Linked DNA regions of Homo sapiens. The main gene of each other region encodes a partner of the protein of the gene in region 2 in a complex. Each region holds a gene or a part of one and is shown on either strand. Other genes may lie near its edges. A codon is read from its position in the direction of its gene.

What was found. The genes of interacting proteins can lie anywhere in the genome.
Region 1: the proteins of CUL3 (region 2) and KLHL3 are in contact, whole or in part, in a crystal structure (PDB 4HXI), measured with the Homo sapiens proteins. Residues at the interface, in NP_003581.1 of Homo sapiens: Ile44, Asn49, Ser50, Gly51, Leu52, Ser53, Phe54, Glu55, Leu57, Tyr58, Arg59, Tyr62, Thr63, Leu66, Lys68, Met118, Asp121, Ile122, Met124, Tyr125, Arg128, Val129, Gln133; in NP_059111.2 of Homo sapiens: Pro73, Tyr74, Ala77, Met78, Asp82, Met83, Ser84, Glu85, Glu92, Ile93, Lys94, Asp95, Pro125, Ser128, Leu129, Gln131, Met133, Arg136, Asp160, Val161, His162, Thr163, Thr165.
Region 3: the proteins of CUL3 (region 2) and KLHL22 are in contact, whole or in part, in a cryo-EM structure (PDB 8K8T), measured with the Homo sapiens proteins. Residues at the interface, in NP_003581.1 of Homo sapiens: Thr14 (codon at 2,630), Arg17 (codon at 2,621), Ile18 (codon at 2,618), Arg19 (codon at 2,615), Ala20 (codon at 2,612), Phe21 (codon at 2,609), Pro22 (codon at 2,606), Met23, Met25, Asn49, Ser50, Gly51, Leu52, Ser53, Phe54, Glu55, Tyr58, Tyr62, Leu66, Met118, Asp121, Ile122, Met124, Tyr125, Arg128, Val129, Gln133; in NP_116164.2 of Homo sapiens: Asp73, Tyr74, Arg76, Gly77, Met78, Gly81, Gly82, Leu83, Lys84, Glu85, Leu92, Ile93, His94, Leu117, Gln121, Val125, Cys128, Gln129, Gln131, Pro133, Trp146, Glu150, Asn151, Asp154, Val155, Arg157, Leu161, Phe162, Asp163, Ser165.

What each region holds. Positions count from the first base shown.
Region 1 is NC_000005.10:137,616,991-137,621,109, forward strand, and holds the end of KLHL3 (kelch-like protein 3), read right to left. Parts: 3' UTR 510-4,119; downstream 1-509. UniProt on the Homo sapiens protein: Substrate-specific adapter of a BCR (BTB-CUL3-RBX1) E3 ubiquitin ligase complex that acts as a regulator of ion transport in the distal nephron.
Region 2 is NC_000002.12:224,582,341-224,590,105, forward strand, and holds the start of CUL3 (cullin-3), read right to left. Parts: upstream 3,024-7,765; 5' UTR 2,670-3,023; coding exon 2,604-2,669; intron 1-2,603. UniProt on the Homo sapiens protein: Core component of multiple cullin-RING-based BCR (BTB-CUL3-RBX1) E3 ubiquitin-protein ligase complexes which mediate the ubiquitination and subsequent proteasomal degradation of target proteins.
Region 3 is NC_000022.11:20,492,787-20,499,653, forward strand, and holds the start of KLHL22 (kelch-like protein 22), read right to left. Parts: upstream 3,010-6,867; 5' UTR 2,974-3,009; intron 779-2,973; exon of another isoform or gene 473-778; coding exon of another isoform or gene 362-472; intron 356-361; exon of another isoform or gene 1-355. UniProt on the Homo sapiens protein: Substrate-specific adapter of a BCR (BTB-CUL3-RBX1) E3 ubiquitin ligase complex required for chromosome alignment and localization of PLK1 at kinetochores.

The DNA of each region.
Region 1 (4,119 bases), on a different chromosome or scaffold from region 2:
CCAGCTTGAAGATAAGTCCAACACCTCTGTGCTGTCCATCTGTCACCTGGTACAGGCCAGAGCTACTGACATCCCAAAAGGGCCTGGGACTGGTTTGTTAACTAGAGAGGGAGCTAAGGTCTCTGAGCAGGAGGCTTTGAGAAGTTACAGCTGAGCCAGGCATCCACCCCCTCCCACTTCATACAAGGCTTCCCTCCCAAATGGTGATGCCCAGCTGAGCTAGCCATCTTCCCCACCAACCCTGACTCTCAGTGGTTCCCAGTGATTATCTGGCAGTTGTGCACACCACTTAATACCCCCTGGAGGGACTGTCCTCTCTTGGCCTCATTGAAGGTCTTTGTGGGTCTGGCACTCTGCTAGGGTGAGTGATGGAAACCAAGGAACCCAGATATTGTCCAGTAGATCTTAAAATTTTTTTTAATCCAAAGACATACAGGAATAAGTCTGTCCTTTTCATGTTTGAGACATAGCAGAGAGACTGGACTATAGAAATGAAATACTGAGAAAAGTTCACACAGTTCAGCTTTTATTAAAATTAAAGGATGGGAAATTAGAACATGATTCCTGTTAAAATAATACATTTGAGGAAATGTTTCTTCAGCTATTGCTGTAACTGATCAAGCATGTGACAAGTGTTCTTTTACAAGATATACAGTCCCTAACAGCCACGCAGAGAACACCAGATCGAGGATCTTACCTATGCAATATGTTGTACGGGGTGTCAGTGATCAAGTCTGACTGGCTATGACAACCACAGGGACAGAGCACCCACACAGACATACACATTCAGTGTCTTCAGTTTTCTTTCAACGAAAGCATTTTACACATAATATGCAAATTAAACAAGAAGTACAACAAGGGTCCTCTATTGCCACTGAAAATGAGGGGAGGGGAGGATGGGGGAGCGAATAATTTACAATCTCATAACCAAACATGGCACTAGGGTGATTTGATGCTGCAAATGCCACAGTCCTGTGCATTCCTGCCATGGCTGATGCTATATCCATGAGTCACTGAGTCCCATGACGAAGGCTGCACAGGGGCTATGAGGCTGTAATTATCCACTACAGAAGAAATCTCTTCCATTCCCAAATGCTGGAAGTGCTGCTGGCTCTCCTGCTTGGTCAGTAGAAACACAGCACAGCTGAACATGAGGGGCTTAGGACTCTAAATAGTGCAAACGCTTAAAAAAATTACATTCTAACCTCCTTGCTTCTCCAGGCAAACAGAGCCTTTAAAAACTCCAACTAACTGGAATATGAGTTTGCTCAGCCTCCCAACTTGATCCAGCTAGGTGCAAATGGGGAGCATGGAGGCAATTTAAATGGCACCTGTCCCAACAATAATAATAATAATAATAAATTTTAAAAACCATGATGCAAATGGCAGATAAATACACAAAACAGAGCCTGGAGTAGAGACATAGCTCAAGAAGCAAGTTGTAAGTGTAGTGTGAGCACCTGCAAAGCATATGCTTAACACACAGGGATCATGAGGATTGACCCCTCTTTTAAAGGTTAGAGACAAGATGCTCCCAAAAAGGGCATCATCCAGCAGCAAAGGCCTCAAGCTATTGGAAGCTTCAGATCAACAAGGAGATAGAAGAGAATAAGGAATGGTCGGCTGGACCTAGGACACTATGGGAGTATGTGCTGGGGGGGCAGGCCTTTCCCTGAGGCTTCTCCATGCCACAGGGTACCAGGCTCAGTGCCCGTCAGTGGGAGCCACCACGAGACAGCCCGGCCTCACCCCCACAGAAAGCAGACTCCAAAAAAAAAAAAAAAGACACAATCAATACAGACGGGCAAGTGCTGAGTCGAACATAACATCAGTCCCTAGCAATTCAAGAAACACCAGTGACTGCGTTTTAAAATTCAGCAGACTCCCTTGAATATGGTATTTTTAAAAAAAAAAAAAAGGCTCATCTACCTGGAGCTACTGAAAAATATGTTTCTGAAGGGTGAGAAACAAAAGGAAGAGAGCTACAGGCATGAACTACGTTTGAGAGTGAATGATGCAAAGAACACAACATTTCATTATCATGGACAATAAAAAGCGATTCAAACTCTTGAAAAAAATATCTTATAAAAATATCTACGTTAAAATTTTAGCCTAAAAGCTATAGCTTCAATTTTATAAAAAGGCAATCTTTGAAAGGATCTGGCTCAGAAATATACAAACATTACACAACAGATATCAAAGTAAGACAGCTCAAAAAGCATCTTAGGGGATATTGCAACTGGCTTGTCGGGAACTAGAATTAAGTATTCTTATTGCATAGCAGAAAATGAGGTCAGTTTTATTTGCATAATACTGCAACTTTGTAGATGGAGAGATGCCATTGGGTACTTATGAGAAATAACTTTGGAATTCAGAATCTGACTTCTACATTGTTCAAATCAGTATCCAAGTGGCGTCTCGGCTGCTTCTAACCTTGGGCCTCAATTCCATTTCACCACCGCAATCAGATGACAGATATGCCACTGGCAAAGCTGCATTCACAAGCAGCCGTGGCCACCCTAAGTGGGGCAGTAAGAGGCTTCATCTACCACGTGACCAGCACAAACTAGAAAATAGCCTGCTGTGTCCACTGTGGAAAGAGAATCGTACCTGGTGATGAAGAGATAGCAGGTTTTGGTGGCATCTGTGGGCAGCTAGAGCAGATTGGCTTTGGTGATGACGTACCAGTGTTCTGGTCCCCGTGAAAAAGGATACATGAGGATGGAGTGCACATGGCCTTGGCAGCACGCCCAGTAGAGGCAGTGCTTTGTAGGGAGGGAGACATGAGGTGAAACCAATTGCAAAAATCCAAAAACAGAAAACATGACTGGCTAGCTTTCAGTGGAGGGACCCTTCCCCGGAAGACGACACATAAAAGTAGCCTCTCCCGCATGAAAGTCTAGCTTCTCAGTGGTGGGGGAGGGGCAGGGAATTCACCTATCATCTGAAATTGAGAGCTTCTGTGAATGGCATACATCAGATCCCAACCCCAGCCTCATCCCCATCACACAGACACACCGAAACAAGTCTCAAAATTTCCTCAGAGAAGGAGAAAGGACATTTCTCATTCCATCAGCTTCCAACCCACAGCCAGGTAGAGTTATGAAGCCACAGTCATCCCCACTTCATAGTGAGACCAGAGCACTCAACTAAAACATGCCTTGCTTCCTTTGGAGACATTTCTTCCAGGTCCCCCAAAGCTGGATATTTTAGCCTCTTCTGAAGGCTTCTAAAAATTCTGGGTACCTTGTTGTTCTCCAAGCATCTTGTTGAAGTAACATGTGCTTAACATCAGAAAGAGAAGTTTTGTCTTTAGGAGAGTTGCACATTTAGGGCACAATAAATATACAGTAAATACACAAAGTGGCTCACTGGCTGGGAAGACTTCGGGGTTTCTAACTGCAGGGGCTGGGGGATGCCAATCTCCTGCAGCACCTGCTTGGAAGTAGCCCAGTCGTATCAGAAGTCCAACATCAGGATTTATAAAGTTCCTTGGCTTCCTGTAGGTGGATTCTCAAAGTAGGGAGGGTGTCCCAGACTGCAAGGTATGAGACTATTCTCCAGACACAAGACTTCCCCTGCTTATGCCAGAAATTTCAGCATGAGCAATTTGCTAGTTTAGGAACAGCACAACTTTAAGGTTTTTTAAATACAAATTACTCCATGCCCCCTCAAATGCCCGCTCCTCAAGATGCTTGAAGTTCTATTGTTAATAATTTTTACCTGTGAATTAGCAAAGCTCTCACCAAGCTCCCTTTTTAAAATGCAAGCACATCTTAGGAAGCCTCAAATCCAAGGCCCACTGATATCTCCTACCTCACAGGGAAAGCAGTAGTGGGGTTCTTGGGGGTTGGGGAGAGGGTGCACACCCTGGAATAGGGGGAAAGCACAAGAAAAAGAAGACAAGGACATTAGACAGACTTGACCACTGTCACAAAGTGCCAAGGGCCAGCTCTAGTGGTATATTCCTTTGAAGCCATCCAATGTCCATCTGAATCACACACGACCCCATCCAACACAGGCACAAATCTATCTTTGGGTCTGGAGGAGGGTGACCTCTTATTTATCCTCCAGACCAGAACACTTCTGAGTAAAATGGGGTGCTGTGAATAATTAAAC
Region 2 (7,765 bases):
AGACTGCCAATCTGGAAGACAGGAATTTTGAAGGTCTATAAGCACACGGTTAGTAAGATAAATCTATGAAACACCCTAACACTGAGATATACATCTATCTGTAACAAAGGGCCATAAACTGTAATAGTTCTTTCCAATGGGAATCACTTAGGAATGTTATTAATACTTATTAAACAGTAATGAAAAATTCTTTTAGAAATCAGCAGCTATTAACTACTGAATACCAAAACTAGTCACTTACTTCATGTAAGGTTTTCAGAAAAACCTGCAAAAGTTATAGACAGAATGGATCCAAATTAGCTCATAATCATAACGAAGCTAACAAAAAAAAATTCAGTTCCAGTACTATGTGGTAACGTATCACACAACGTTATTATACTGGTCAGCTAAAGGAATAATGAAATTCTCTCCCACCTCTTCTCCCCAACAATATTAGCTCCAAAAGGCAGGGATCTTGGTCTTTCTAGCTATACTGACAGACCCCCAGAACAGTGCCTGGCACATAATATTCAGTATTTGCTGAACAAATTAAATGATGGCAAAACAGGTAAGAGCAGGGAAACCTGAAGAGGTCAAAGAGTTTAATTACACATACATTAACGTACAACTGGTCAATCAGAAGGCCATTAACTTGAGTGAGTTGATGTCAAATTTGAGTTACTCCACATTTTAGCAAAAAATCTTATTTAGAACATGAGACTTCAAGAATTGAGTAGTGTAAGGCTGCACACACTGCTAGAAAATCTGTTGTATATAGGCCTGGCGCGGTGGCTCACTCCTGTAATCCCAGCACTTTGGGAGGCCGAGGTCGGTGATCACCTGAGGTCGGGAGTTCGAGACCAGCCTGACCAACATGGAGAAACCTCGTCTCTACTAAAAATACGAAATTAGCCCGGTGTGGTGGCGCATGCCTGTAATCCCAGCTACTCAGGAGGCTTTTAACCCAGGAGGCGGAGGTTGCGGTTAGCTGAGATCACGCCATTGTACTCCAGCCTGGGCAACAGGAGCGAAACTCTTGTCTCAAAAAAAAAGAAAATCTGTTGTATACAACTATTAACTTCATAAAATTCTAAGTAATTCTAAACTCTAAAGTGGTCAGAATTTAGTAGGAAAATTAATATCACTCACAAATGCATAACCCAGCTCTGCCCAATTATAAGGGAAAACATACTAGTAAGCTTCGTTAGTACTCGCTTGTCAACATTTCTCACGTTTACTTAGAAAAAAGTTTGAAACATTCAAAAAATCTTTAATTATTATCAAAACACTTATTCTCCTAAATTCCATCGTACCTATTTACACAAAGCAGAGGTTTTCGCACACTGACTTTAGTATTTATGTTCTTACAATTTCAGAATTCTGCATGAGGTGTATCCTTTTAAATTTTAGGAATTCAGAGAGGTCCTCATGTTCTCTGAAACTAAATCACTTGACTCAACTGGGGCAATCACATCAAGGTAAGTCTTTCCTCACTGCAACTGCGCTTCAGGAAAAGCATGCTTTAAAAAGTGACAACAAATCCCCCTCTTTCGCTGGTACATCATATGAAGTATTTATGAATCTAAGAAGGGAAGACCAAGATCTTTCTCTAATTTTACTTTTTAAAATCTTCTGTCCGATTGCTAGTTCGTCTGTCTTGACGTATGCCTTTTATTGTAGCGACATAGGCAAGTATGCCCAGTTCGTTAACAGTACATTTTAATTGCTTGCCACGGGGAAGCTGAACCAGATTTGACACCCAAAGTTATATCCTATATACTAAACATCGCAAGGGTACGACTCAACGTAATGCCAAAAAAGAAAAAGTTTCTGAGCAGAACACGTTTGCTGTCACTGAAAGCGATGAAACAAAGCTACTCCGCAAGGCGACTACACTCATTCTTTGGGCTCCCAAGGCTGAGAAATGGAGAACCAATTGGCCGGTTTGCTCTCTGTTGCTTCCCCCCCACCCGGCCTTCCTCCGAGTGGCGAGGCAATCCTGCACAAGAGTTTGTAAAGTGCTTAGGAAGCTTGTAGGATGAAAGACGCTATAAATACACCCAATGTTACTAGTTTATGACCACGGAGCATTCCGTGGAACCACTGTCACTGCGTCGGGGGCAGGTTGATGGCATAGACCTTCCTGGGGAGGGGGGCAGAGAGAGAGGGCAGCCCCTTCATCACCCTAAAAGCTAGGCTGGGTAAATTTTCAAAGTGTAGCGAAACCCCACGTGAAAAGTTCCACACACGCCCCACACAGGGAGGACTCCGCGGCTGCTAGCAGCGCCGGAGACTGGGCCTACAACCCCGGCAACGTGGGGAGGCGTGGGGCGGCCGAGGGGCCCCGGCCGCAGCCGACGCCCGCGGAGCGGCTGAAGGAGCAGCTCCCGGACGGGGGCGCGGCGCCAGGCCCGGGCTCCCGGCGCGGGGAACGGCCCGGGAGGGCGGCCGCGCCGGGGCCCCGCGCCGCCCGGTTGCCGGGAAGGCTCGCGCCCCGCGGCCGGCGGGCGTGGGGGAGGGGAGGCCGGGCCTGCGGCCTGTTGGGGGACTTCAGCCCGGGCCTCGCGTGCGGCTCTCGGCCCGGCCCCCGGCCCCGGGGTCCCGGACGCCGAGGAGAGACTCACCGGAAAGGCCCGGATCCGCATCTTGGTGTCCTTCCGGCTGCCCGTGCCTTTGCTCAGATTCGACATGGTGCTCGTCCCCTCCCCGGCGGCGGCTTCAGGTCGCGCTCCGCGACGCCGGTGTCACATTTAAGGCGGGCAGGCAGGCTAGGGGCGACGCTGGGGGCGGCGGCGGCGCGACCCCCGGGCAGGGCTGGGGAGCTGGCCGGCCCCTGGGCAGCCGCGGCGGCGGCGGGGGCGGCGGCGGCGGCGGCGGCGGCTCGGACTCTGGCGACTCCGATGCGGCTGGGGGGCTGCGCTGGCGCGGCGGCTCCGCGGGGTCCCCCTCACGTCCGGCTCGGCTCCCTTTATCGCGCTCCTCCGCGATGGCGGCGGCGGCGGCGACGGACAAACATCTCACTGCGCAGGCCGAACGTCGTCCTCCTCCTCCTCCTTCTCCTCCTCCGCCTGAGCGAGACGAGATCCGGCCCAGAGGGTGGAGGGGGGAGGAGGGAGGGAGGAGAGCCGGAGAGTGAGAGATGCCGGGGGAGGGAGGTGGGAGGACGGGAGGGGGAGCCCGGCGGCCGCCGCGGGGGACGCTCAGATCTCGCGAGAAGAGGGCGAGCGCGCTGCCCCCCTGGTGGGCGGGGCGAAGCCCGGGAGAGGGTGGGCGCCACCGGAGGGGAGGAGGGGAACAGGGAACTGAAGGAAGTGGGAGGGGCCGGCGGGGCGGGGAAGCGGAAAGGGGGCGTGGCTGAGGGCGGGAGGATTAAGCTGCCTTTTTGAAAGTGGAGCGCCAGGTCCCGGGTTCTGGGTGGAGGTGGTTGCTGATTGGTGGAGCTCGGAGCGGCGGTTGGGAGGGTCCTGGTCACATGGTGGGGAGTGGGAGGGGGGAAGTTCGGAGAGCGGGAGCGGGATGGTAGTGGGCTGGGCCCCACTGGGCTGGGACAGCAGGAGGATAGTCTTGAGGAGGAGCGTGGGGTGCTAGATGTGTAACTACGTCCCGAACTGGTTCCTGTGTTTTTCTAGGGCATGTGGACTAGGGATGGGTACTTGAGTAGAAGCCTGCAACTTGAAGAGTTTGTGCAGGAGTTAGCTGCAGTGTCGGAAATTAGTGTCCTGTATGCTCAACAAGGTATTCGGACTGGGTGTGCACACCACAGCTCTCAGGACTGGAAGGTGGAAATTTAATCTACGAAGTTCCCTTAAACTGCATAAGCTTCGGGACCTCTTGATTCACTGATATTTTCTGGTGGACCCAGGGCTTATTCATGTTAAAACCTGTTTTTCATTACCATCAGAATAAACTGACAGCTCCATTAATGAAATGCAGCATTTGGTAAATAATGTTAAGTGGAATGATAGAAACCTATCTTTAACCTACCGGATAAATCATTTCTACCATTACCAAGAGTATTGTAGATTTTTAAAGCCAAAATTACCGTCTGATTCAGTTGCTGTATATTTGAAAAGGTTTTGGCTTTTGGTTTTGGAGGAGAGGCGTTTGGTCGCTTTATAGTCAAAATGTCTAATTTGACTTATCGGTTTTGCTGTCCATTTGTTATGAATTGTACTTCCTCATTTACCTACTTGCCCAATTGCTGTTATGTTTGGGTTTCTGACTCTGCAAGGGAATACGTGAGTTCTTATTAAAGTTTGTGTTCTTCCTATTTTAAAGAAGCATATGTTTGGGGGATGGATATCTACATTTAGAAGCTGGAATTTTAATACTTTTAAATAGCAAACAATATAAAGTGAAATACACTTATTTGTTGACTGTAAGGTTGAATTTGCCCTAAATTAACTTAATCCTGATGACTAAGCTTATGAGTGTTGTGCTTAAAGCCCCTTCTTGCTTAAAACGCCCCACTGCAAATACCATATTTTCTTGTTTTTTTTTTTTTTTTGTGGGAGTTTTTTGGTATTGGCTAATTAAAGCAGGAGCTTAAGAAACAAGAATGTTGCTTAAGACAATATCTGTAAATACTGAAGCTAAAAATAGGTTATCAAGAACTGAGTTGATAAACTAAGATTGGGAGAGGCTCTGACTTCAATGTAAGATAATGTCAGCCTTGAATAGGAGTTTATAATCTCTATGCTAATTGAACCTCCATTTCCATAACATAATATAATAACAAACAATGTTTTTCTCTTGGTTGTACTCTCATATGGCCCAGTTTCTTTGTAATGTAAGAATATATGTTCAGAATAGGGATCTCTGAGGAACCAAAAAAAGAAATAAAAAAATATTTTAAAAAAGAATATGTGTTCTTGGAGCCATTGTTTGAATCTCAATTCTGCCACTTTACTAGCTGTGTTTTGCATCTTTTGGGGCATGGAGTTGACAATCCCCAGAATTTCTCATCTGTAAAAGGGAGACAATAACAATACTTCCTCCTTGGGCTACCGTGAAATTTAAATAGATGAATACGTTTTAAAGAGCCCTGAGAACTGGGCATGGAGCAGCAACTTACCACCTGTTGGCTGTTATTAACATGGGCATTAAAGCCAAGGTTATACTACTTCCTTTATTCAATAGGTAGGTTTCTAAACAACAACAACAAAAAACACTTGTATGCTTTTATAAAATGAGTCATATTTTGAAACTAAGCCAGTCTCCGACATTTGGATCTCTCAGACTAATAAAATATTTTCTGATAAGCTAGGGAGTCATTATAGATTTGGCAACTTTATATTGGCAAGGGTATTAAAAAGGAACAACTAGCATAGATTATTCCCATCATTTATTAAAAAGTATTTTAACCTCAGAAATGAGGGAAGATCCATTTTTGAATAAAGGACAGTTCCTTGAATTGAACAGCCTCGTAATGAACAATACGTCACACGAATTTTTCTTATTTCACTGTGAACCTAAGGAGACATCATGGGCCAGCATTTAGAAACCCACTACATTAAGGTATGTTTCTACTTAATTGTAAAGCATATAGTAAGTATAGTAACTGTAATGTATTTGCTTTGTGAACCCAGATTTTCGTATATTGGTGTTGCTTAACCAAAATTTAGCTGCGTCTAAAAGCATCACTGTGAACTGTGTCTTCCCTTAAGCTTTTAACCACCAAGGATCAGAAAAATGCTTCAAAATGATTTTGTCATTAAGAAGTCTGCTCATTTATTTGTTCAGTTATTCATTTATTCAATAATTATTATTGAATGGCTACTGTATGTCAGGAACTAGGGTGAATGAGACAGATGGGACCTGCCATCACATCCTTTTTCACATCTCACAGTTTGTAAACCACAGACCCATATTGGATTTGGCCCCAACTTTGTATATGCTTCAGTTCTGAAATCAGATATTTTCCTTCCTGTGGAAGCAACATCCTCAGAATGTCTATGAAATACTTTCTGAAGCAGCAGTAGATTATTTTTCTGTGCCCAGTCATATTCCCTGACTTGCAAATAGCAAATAAACTTTCAGGATGTTGCTTTTCTGCAAACTGCCACCTGATCTAGCAGAGAAAGCAGCACTGGAATAGGAACTCACTAGATCTTGCATGGCTGGCGATTGGTATTCCTACTCATGCTGACAGTGTCCTGACACAGGAAAACAGTGGCCTCATTTCCATTTATTCTTTCCATTTATGCATATGGAGCACATGCATTCAGAGAGATCAGGCAGTTGGGTGGGCCAGCCCCTTTTCTACATCCCAGTCTGTGAAAGAGCAATATAAGATGTGAGGAGCTGGTAAAAGGAAGTAATAGCCTCTTCTTGACCATCAGTTTCTAGGTACTCGGGATACCAAGTCACTTTAATCAATGTTTCAGATCTGCTGATTTTATTGTACAGATATTGGTTGTTAAAACAGCTCAAAGCCTACAATTTCAATTTGAAAGACCCGTTCAATGGTTTTGAGTAGACCAAGACTATGTTAAGAGAGAGAAAATGTTTTTAAGTTGGAAGGCAAAGATGTATAGATATTATCAGCTCTTGGAATGGAAGGGCTAGATCTTCTACTTTCTTGTCTCTACCAGGCAACTAATAAGTATTATAGGCCATTAGATATGGAGTTGTATATATTTAGGGTAGTAGCATGTGTATGTGCATTATAAGATGACATTGTCGGCAAATACCCCATTGAGAACATAACCACAGATGCTTAAATATGTGAAAACTGTAGGCCTTCTCCATGCAACTTTTCTACTGTGTCCTTAAAATTTTTCTTATATTATTGAGACAAGAAGCATATGAGACACATAAGCATATGAGACGTTACATCTTAAACTAAAAAATGTTAAATGTCTGATTATATCATAAAAATCCATCTCAGTATTTCATCATATGGTCATACAAAAGAAAATCATCTCCCTGGCAGCTCTGGAAATGTTCTGGTTGGCTTGGACAGTCTGTTTATTCCACATGTACCCAATAAATTAACATTTTGTAAATAAAAATATCTATACAACCAACTAACCCAATTGAACATAATATAGATTCTCAATTTAAAAATATAGGCATGGCTTCTATGTAATCTTATTTCAAAGAAAAAGAATTTCTTCTTATTAATACCATTGTAACAGTAAATGTATCAAGAAACCTCTAGGGGACAGTTATGAGTATGTATTGCTTTCATTCATGACAAGTAAAATATATGTTGAAGTTTGTAACTCATCAGCTCTGTCTTTGTGAAGTAAGTTAATTTTGGAGTTGAGATAAAGCATTGTGCCAAAAGAGCTATAAAAATAATGGTCTAAATTTTATGTTAGATTTAGTAATTGTATGAATTATAAATACTACAGTGGACAAATGTAATAAAATGGCATTATCTTTTTTTTGTTTTTTGAAACGGAGTCTCGCTCTTTTGCCCAGGCTGGAGTGCAGTGGTGGGACCTCAGCTCACTGCAACCTCTGCCTGCTGGGTTCAAGCAATTCTCCTGCCTCAGCCTCCCAAGTAGCTGGGATTACAGGCGCCCACCACCATGTCTGGCTCCTTTTTTTGTATTTTTAGTAGAGATGTGGTTTCACCATGCTGGCCAGGCTGGTCTCGAACTCCTGACTTCGTGATCCACCCACCTCGGCCTCCCAAAATGCTGGGATTACAGATGTGAGTCACCGCGCCCGGCAATGGCATTATCTTTAAACTTCTTTAATAAGCTCTTTGTCTTCAGTTCGTAATAAAACTATATTCTTAACTCTTATATCTAGAACTGGTAGAAATCAGAATCTG
Region 3 (6,867 bases), on a different chromosome or scaffold from region 2:
TCACCATGTTGGTCAGGCTGGTCTCGCATTCCTGACCTCAGGTGATCCATCTGCCTTGACCTCCCAAAGTGCTGGGATTACAGGCATGAGCCACCGCGCCCGGCCCAAACCTGCCTATTTACCCACGACAAGGAGATTCCGGCTTCTTGAGGGGTGAGGTTTTATCTCACAAACATCTCAAAAGCCCCCATGGCTGGCTGTACCACTTGCTAATGACAGACTCTGGGCACTTGTCTCATATACCCACGCCTCAGCTTTCTCATCACCACCATGACCACCGCAGAGTCAAGAGGGCCTCCTTCTCTGAGGGTGACCTCCACAACTACCCCAATAGACATCAAGCCCCCAGGTGGATCCTCACCTTCCGTGAGCATAGTAGTGCCTCTGCTCTCTTGGGAAGGGATAAATGGCAGCTACTCCCTAAACCCATACTGCAAAAACAAGTACGGTAAAACAGAAAGACATCTTCCATGGGCAGGCAAAGCACATTTACCAAGTCCAATTTAAGAAACTTAGCTAGGGGCTAAGGGGGATATGCTGAAAAATGAATCAATTCTCTGCTGGGAAGGAGCACAGCACAGGGTGCAACATTTAAAACATTTAAAACCACATCTATACGGTTTTAAATCACCAAAACGTCCACCCTCAGGAGAACAGATGTCATGGCACAGTGATCTGACAGAACATTAGGCAACAGTCAAAATGCGCAAAGTGGCCGGGCGCAGTGGCTCACGCCTGTAATCCCAACACTTCGGGAGGCTGAGGCGGATGAATCACGAGGTCAGGAGTTCAAGACCAGCCTGGCCAACATAGTGAAACCCCATCTCTACTAAAAATACAAAAAAATTAGCCGGGCATGGTGGTAGGTGCCTATAATCCCAGCTACTTGGGAGGCTGAGGCAGGAGAATCACGCCACTGCATTCCAGCCTGCATGACAGTGCGAGACTCCGTCTCAAAAACAAAAAAACAAACAAAAAAACAATGTGCAAAGTAGGCTGGGCACAGTGGCTCATGCCTGTAATCCCAGCACTTTGGGAGGCCAACGTGGGAGGATCACCTGAGGTCAGGAGTTCAAGACCAGCCTGGCCAACATGAGGAAGCCCCATCTCTACTAAAAATACAAAAATTAGTGGGGCGTGGTGGCGCATGCCTGTTATCCCAGCTACTGGGAAGGCTGAGGAAGGGGGAAGCTGAGGCAGGAGAATCGATTGAACCCAGGAGGTGGAGGTTGCAGTGAGCCAAGATTGTGCCATTGCACTCCAGCCTGGGCGACAGAGCCAGACTTTGCCCCCCCCCCAAAAAAAAAAGTGCAAAGTAGGCTGGGCATGGTGGCTCATGCCTGTAATCCCAGTGCCTTGGGAGGTCCAGGTAGGTGGAGTTCAAGACCACCTTGGGCAATATAGCGCGACCCTTTCTCTACAAAAAATTTAAAAATTAACTAGGCATGGTGGTGTACACCTGTAGTCCTGGCTATCTGGGGTGAGACAGCTTGGGGTTCACTGCAGTCTCAAGCTCCCAGGTTCAAGTGATCCTCCCACCTCAGCTTCCTCAGAAGCTGGAACAACAGGAGCTCACCACTGCGCCCGGCTAATTTTTCAAATTTTCTTTGTAGAGAAGAGGTTTCACTATATGGTGTAGGCTAGAGTGCAGTGGTAGGGTCTTGGCTCACTGCAGCCTTCATCTCCTGGGTTCAAGCGATTCTCCTACCTCAGCCTCCCGAGTAGCTGGGATTACAAGCACGTGTCACCACACCCAGCTAATTTTTGTATTTTTAGTAGAGACGGGGTTTCACCATGTTGGCCAGGCTAGTCTCTCCTGACCTCAGGTGATCTGCCAGCCTTGGCCTCCCAAAGTGCTGGGATTACAGGCATGAGCCACCGCGCCCGCCCCCAGTCTCATATCCCCAATTTTAGTCATCACAAGCCAAGTTCCCCGTTTTGTACTGTTCGAAGTTTCAGTGGGGAGAAGAAAGGAAGCTTAATGTGCCACATAGCTACAAACTGAAGGATACAAGATGAATTTTTATGAAGTGATGGATGGCAGAGTCAAAATCATTTCAGAGGAACTTTCAGTTCGGTACGATTTTACTGAGTAGATACCCTCAGCCTTCTGTAGGGCCCCCGAACGAGCAGTATCCCCTCAAAGAAACTCAATCCTTGGCAGCATGAAGCAAGGTCGGCCACAAAGGCAAAGGGGGCGGCTGCGGTAGAGGAGAGGGAGTGGGTGCTGATTCCCAGCGGGGCAGCCTTCCAAAGGGTGCGCTCTGGAAGAATCTCCCAGGGAGCCGTCTTGGAGGCACTCGGCCCCGCGGAGGGCCGGAGCGAGGGCGCCCAGTGAGGAGCCCAGGCGGAAGGTGGCGGTGCCCCGCTGCCCGCCCCAGATCCACTCGGCTCGGCCCGCACCGGATCTAAAATGGTCAGAACTGGCAGCCGACGCTTCGCGCTCTGGTGATTTTGCACTGACAGCGCGATCTCCGGCTCCTCTCAGGAAACCGGGAGAGCTGGCAAGGCTGGGCTCCTACGGCTGCAGTCCCCGGGCCCGATCGAGGGAACTGAGGCTCGTCAGGCCGGCCCCAAATCGCCCGCCTGTTGCAAGGCCGCCCGCTCCAGCGCGGAGGGTCGCGGCCAGGAAGGCCGCATTCGGACCTGCCGCAGGCAACAGGGCCCGCCCGGGTGCCAGGAGGCCGGCGCGCCAGCAGCCGCGCTGAGGAGGCCTCGCACCCTGGCCCCTGGCCGAGCGCCAGATCCCGGCCCCTACGCGCCCGCGCCCGGGGATCCCGCCGGCCGCGTCCCCGCCACGTCAGGCCGCGGGCTCTCCTCAGGTCGCCGCCCCCGAGCCTCCGGCCCGCGCCCGCCCCCGCGCCCCTCGGACTCCGCGCCGCTAGCTTGTCCCCGGCCCAGCGATGCCTGCTTGCCGCCCGACCCCCGCGTTCGCTGCCGCCCGGCCCGTTCGGCTCACGCCTCGCAGCTGACCTGGTGCCGCCGCCAGCCGAGGCCGCACTCGCAGCTGGAGGGAGGCGGGAGGCGGGAGGCGGGAGGCGCGAGGCGGGAGGCTGGGCGAGAGGAGCCGGCGGGGCGGGGGCCTGGGCCGTCACGTGGGTGCGCCGCGCAGGCGCCGGGCGGGCCAGACGTAGGCCCGGGGGTTCCCGGCCTGGCCGGGTAGCAGCGCGGGGGCGGCCCTGGGGCGGGGAGACAGGGGGCGGCTCCACTCCGGCGCTCTGCGGAGGACAGCAGCGATCGCCAAGGCTCAGTGAGTCCCCGCACTAGCGCGGCACCTGGCACTTGGCGGGGCCGAACCAACGAATGAGCGAATTTGCCGAGAGTCGCCCCGTCTGAATCCATTGACTCTTTCCTTGCCTCGGTCCTACCCTCATTCCTCGACTCACTTCCTCCTGCCCTTCCTCACTATCTCCCTCCCCGCTCATATCCTCCCTCTCCTTTCCTCATTCCCTTCTTCACTCTCTTCTCTCCTCTCTTACTCCCCCCCTCTCATTCCCTCCCTCCTTCACTCTCTCATTCCTTCCCTTCCTATCTTACCCACCATTCCCTTCCTCCCTCACTCATTCACTCCCTCCCTGTCTCCCCCTCTCATCCCCTCCCTCTCTCATTCCCTTTCCCTCCCTCCTTAACTCTCGTTCTCTCCTCCCTCTCTCATTCCTTCCCTCCCTGTCTCATTTCCCCCCTTCTTTCCCTCCCTCCCTCTCCTCTTCTCCCATTGCCTCCCTCCCTCTTTGATTCCCTTCTTTCCTCCTCTCCTCCACTTGTTCCCTTCGTCACGCGCTCATTCCCTCCCTCCCGCGGCCTGCTCCTTCCCCGCTCCCTCCGCGGTCGGTGCCGCTGACCGTAGCGCGCCCCCTGCGGGATATCGGGGAGAATCGCTTAACACCGCCAGAGTGAACAGGTGCTAGTTTGTGTGCCCGTTCCTTTACTGAGATTTTGCAGTAAATCTAATTCCCAGTCTTAAAGCCTGGTCCCAGAGGTCCGTGCGCGGGTCTTGGCATTCATTGTTCTCCACCTCACCTTCGAGCAGGTCCCATCCTCCGAGGCGTATCCGTAATGGCTGCGCCCAGAGCTTGGAGCCACAGAGCCTCCTGATGGGATAAGGTTGGAGTGTCCCACACTGTGGTTTTGAGAGGGACTGTGAAGGGTGGAGAGAGTGGTAGGGGGAGGATGTGGCTGGAGATGGCTCATGGTTAAAAAGAAAGGTGGGGCCGGGCTTGGTGGCTGGCGCCTGTAATCCCAACACTTTGGGAGGCCGAGACGGGCGGATCACGAGGTCAGGAGATGGAAACCATCCTGGCCAACATGGTGAAACCCCATCTCTACCAAAACACACACAAAAAAACTAGCCGGTCGTGGTGGCGCGCACCTGTAGTCCCAGCTACTCGGGAGCCTGAGGCAGGAGAATCGCTTGAACCCGGGAGGCAGAGGTTGCAGTGAGCCGAGATCACGCGCCACTGCACTCCAGCCTGGTGACAGAGCGAGACTCCGTCTCAAAAAAAAAAAAAAAAAAAAAAAAAAAAATTGGTGGAAGGGGAATGTAAAAGGAGGAAAATACACGGAAGAGAATTGCTGTCCTGGCTGAGTCCAGAGAGATAACTGAGGGTCCCAGACAAGGATCAAGAGAACGGGATTGGCCTCCAGAGGCAGAGGTTCCAAATGGGAGTGGGCTTCCTCCTAGAAAGACTTTCTGGAGGAGACCCCCCTACTGTGTAACAGAGGAGGACTTTGGGATTAAGAAAAGCATTCCAGGAAGCCGACAGTGTCAGCAAACGTGGAGGTGAGATCCTTCAAAGTGAGTGGTGTGGAGGTTTCCAGAATTTTCTGAGCCTGAAGGGAAGGTTGGAGAGCAGACCCTGCCCTTTGGAGGCTTGACTTAGCCCTGAGGGCACCCTGTAGCCAGGGTGGGCAGATGCCAATATGGTAGAGACGAAGACTGAGTAGGGAGCCAGCCACAGTGCTGTGGTCTCAGGCAGGGAGTGAAGACCAGAGTGGAGCAGGCTAGAAACCTGGGAAGGAAGCAGGTTCCCCAGTATAAGCCCAGTGATGTGTGAAGAATGAGCCCAGGAGATGGGTGGGGAAGTAGGCCCACCCTGCCTACAGGGGAGCCAGAGCAAGAGCAGGTCTGGGGGAAGATGAGGCCCCCCTTGGCTCCAGGTAGGGGAAGACTGACCTCCAAGGCCCAATGGGACCAGGTGTACGGGTGGACCCAGAGAGGAGAGGAAAAGGAATCCTGGGGCAGCAACAAGAAGGCCACTGTGGTCTGAATGTCGGTACCCCCAAAATTCATATGTTGGAACTGAATCCTCAGTGCGATACTATTATAAAGTAGGGCCTTTGGGAGGGGTTTAGGTCATGAGGGTGAAGTCCTCACCATGGGATCAGTGTATAAAAGAGGTTCGAAGGAGCTCATCCCCCACTTTTGCCAGGTGAGGACACTGTAATAAGCACCATCTTCAAGGCAGAGAATCGGCTGGGCGCAGTGGCTCACGCCTGTAATCCCAGCACTTTGGGAAGCCGAGGTGGGAGGATCATGAGGTCAGGAGATCAAGACCATCCTGGCTAACATGGTGAAACCCCATCTCTACTAAAAATACAAAAAATTAGCCAGGCATGGTGGTGGGCGCCTGTAGTCCCAGCTACTTGGGAGGCTGAGGCAGGAGAATGGCGTGAACCCGGGAGGCAGAGCTTGCAGTGAGCTGAGATCGCGCCACTGCACTCCAGCCTGGGTGACAGAGCAAGACTCCGTCTCAAAAAAAAAAAGCAGAGAACGGACCCCTCACTAGACACTGGGGCTTTTTTCTGAAGGCTACTGTGTCATATAAAATTTATATTAAATAAATTGATATGCTTTTCTCTTGTTAATCTGTCCTTTGTTAGAGGGGTGTCAACCAGGAACCTTGTGATGCGTGAGGAAAAAATATTACCTTTTCCCCCTACTCTTTCTGGCACCCAACAAACAAGTGGGGTGGCAAAGACACCCCACTTGGGACAACTGGCAAAAGGTAAGCATTCTTACCAAGGTTAACTGTCCCATATCACTGCCTGTAGTACTCAGCTGAGAGTGGAAGGTAAAAACTTCTTGTCCCTTCCTTTCCAAATTCAAATTAGCAGAAGAAAACATTGTGTCTGGATTGTGACTCTTGCTTAAATTTGGTTGAGGGGTAACTGTTTGTTATTGATCCTTTCCTCCCAGGCACAGCTACCTCTTTCCTGTTTGTTTTATTTGTGTCCTGAGAGCTTGGCTTTATGACCAGTGAGAATATTCTCCCTGATCTCTGAATAGCCAGTGGGTGCAAGTGACAGCTTGCTTTAGGACAGCTTGCGTTAGGGTTGCAAGTAACAGCTTGCATTATTACAAACTCCTCTGTCCCGGTCAGAAAAAGAGAAAGTTTGGTTTTTGTTTGTTTGTTTGTTTTTTGTTTTGTTTTAATAGTCTTGCTCTTTCGCCCAGGCTGGAGTGCAGTGGCATGGTGGCATGATCTTGGCTCACTGCAACTGCTGCATCCTGGGCTCAACTGATTCTTCTGCCTCAGCCTCCTGAGTAGCTGGGACTACAGGCACACACTACCACGTCCAGGTAATTTTTTTTGTATTTTTAGTAAAGAGGGGGATTCATCATGTTGCGCAGGGTGATTTTTTTTTTTTTTTTTTAATTCTTTTCTGAGACGGAGTCTTGCTCTGTCACCCAGGCTGGAGTGCAATGGCGGGATCTCGGCTCAGCCTCCTGAGTAGCTGGGATTACAGGCACCTGCCACTACGCCAGCTAATTTCTGTATTTTTAGTAGAGACAGGGTTTCACCATGTTAGTCAGGCTGGTCTCGAACTCCTGACCTCGGGTGATCTGCCCACCTCGGCCTCCCAAAG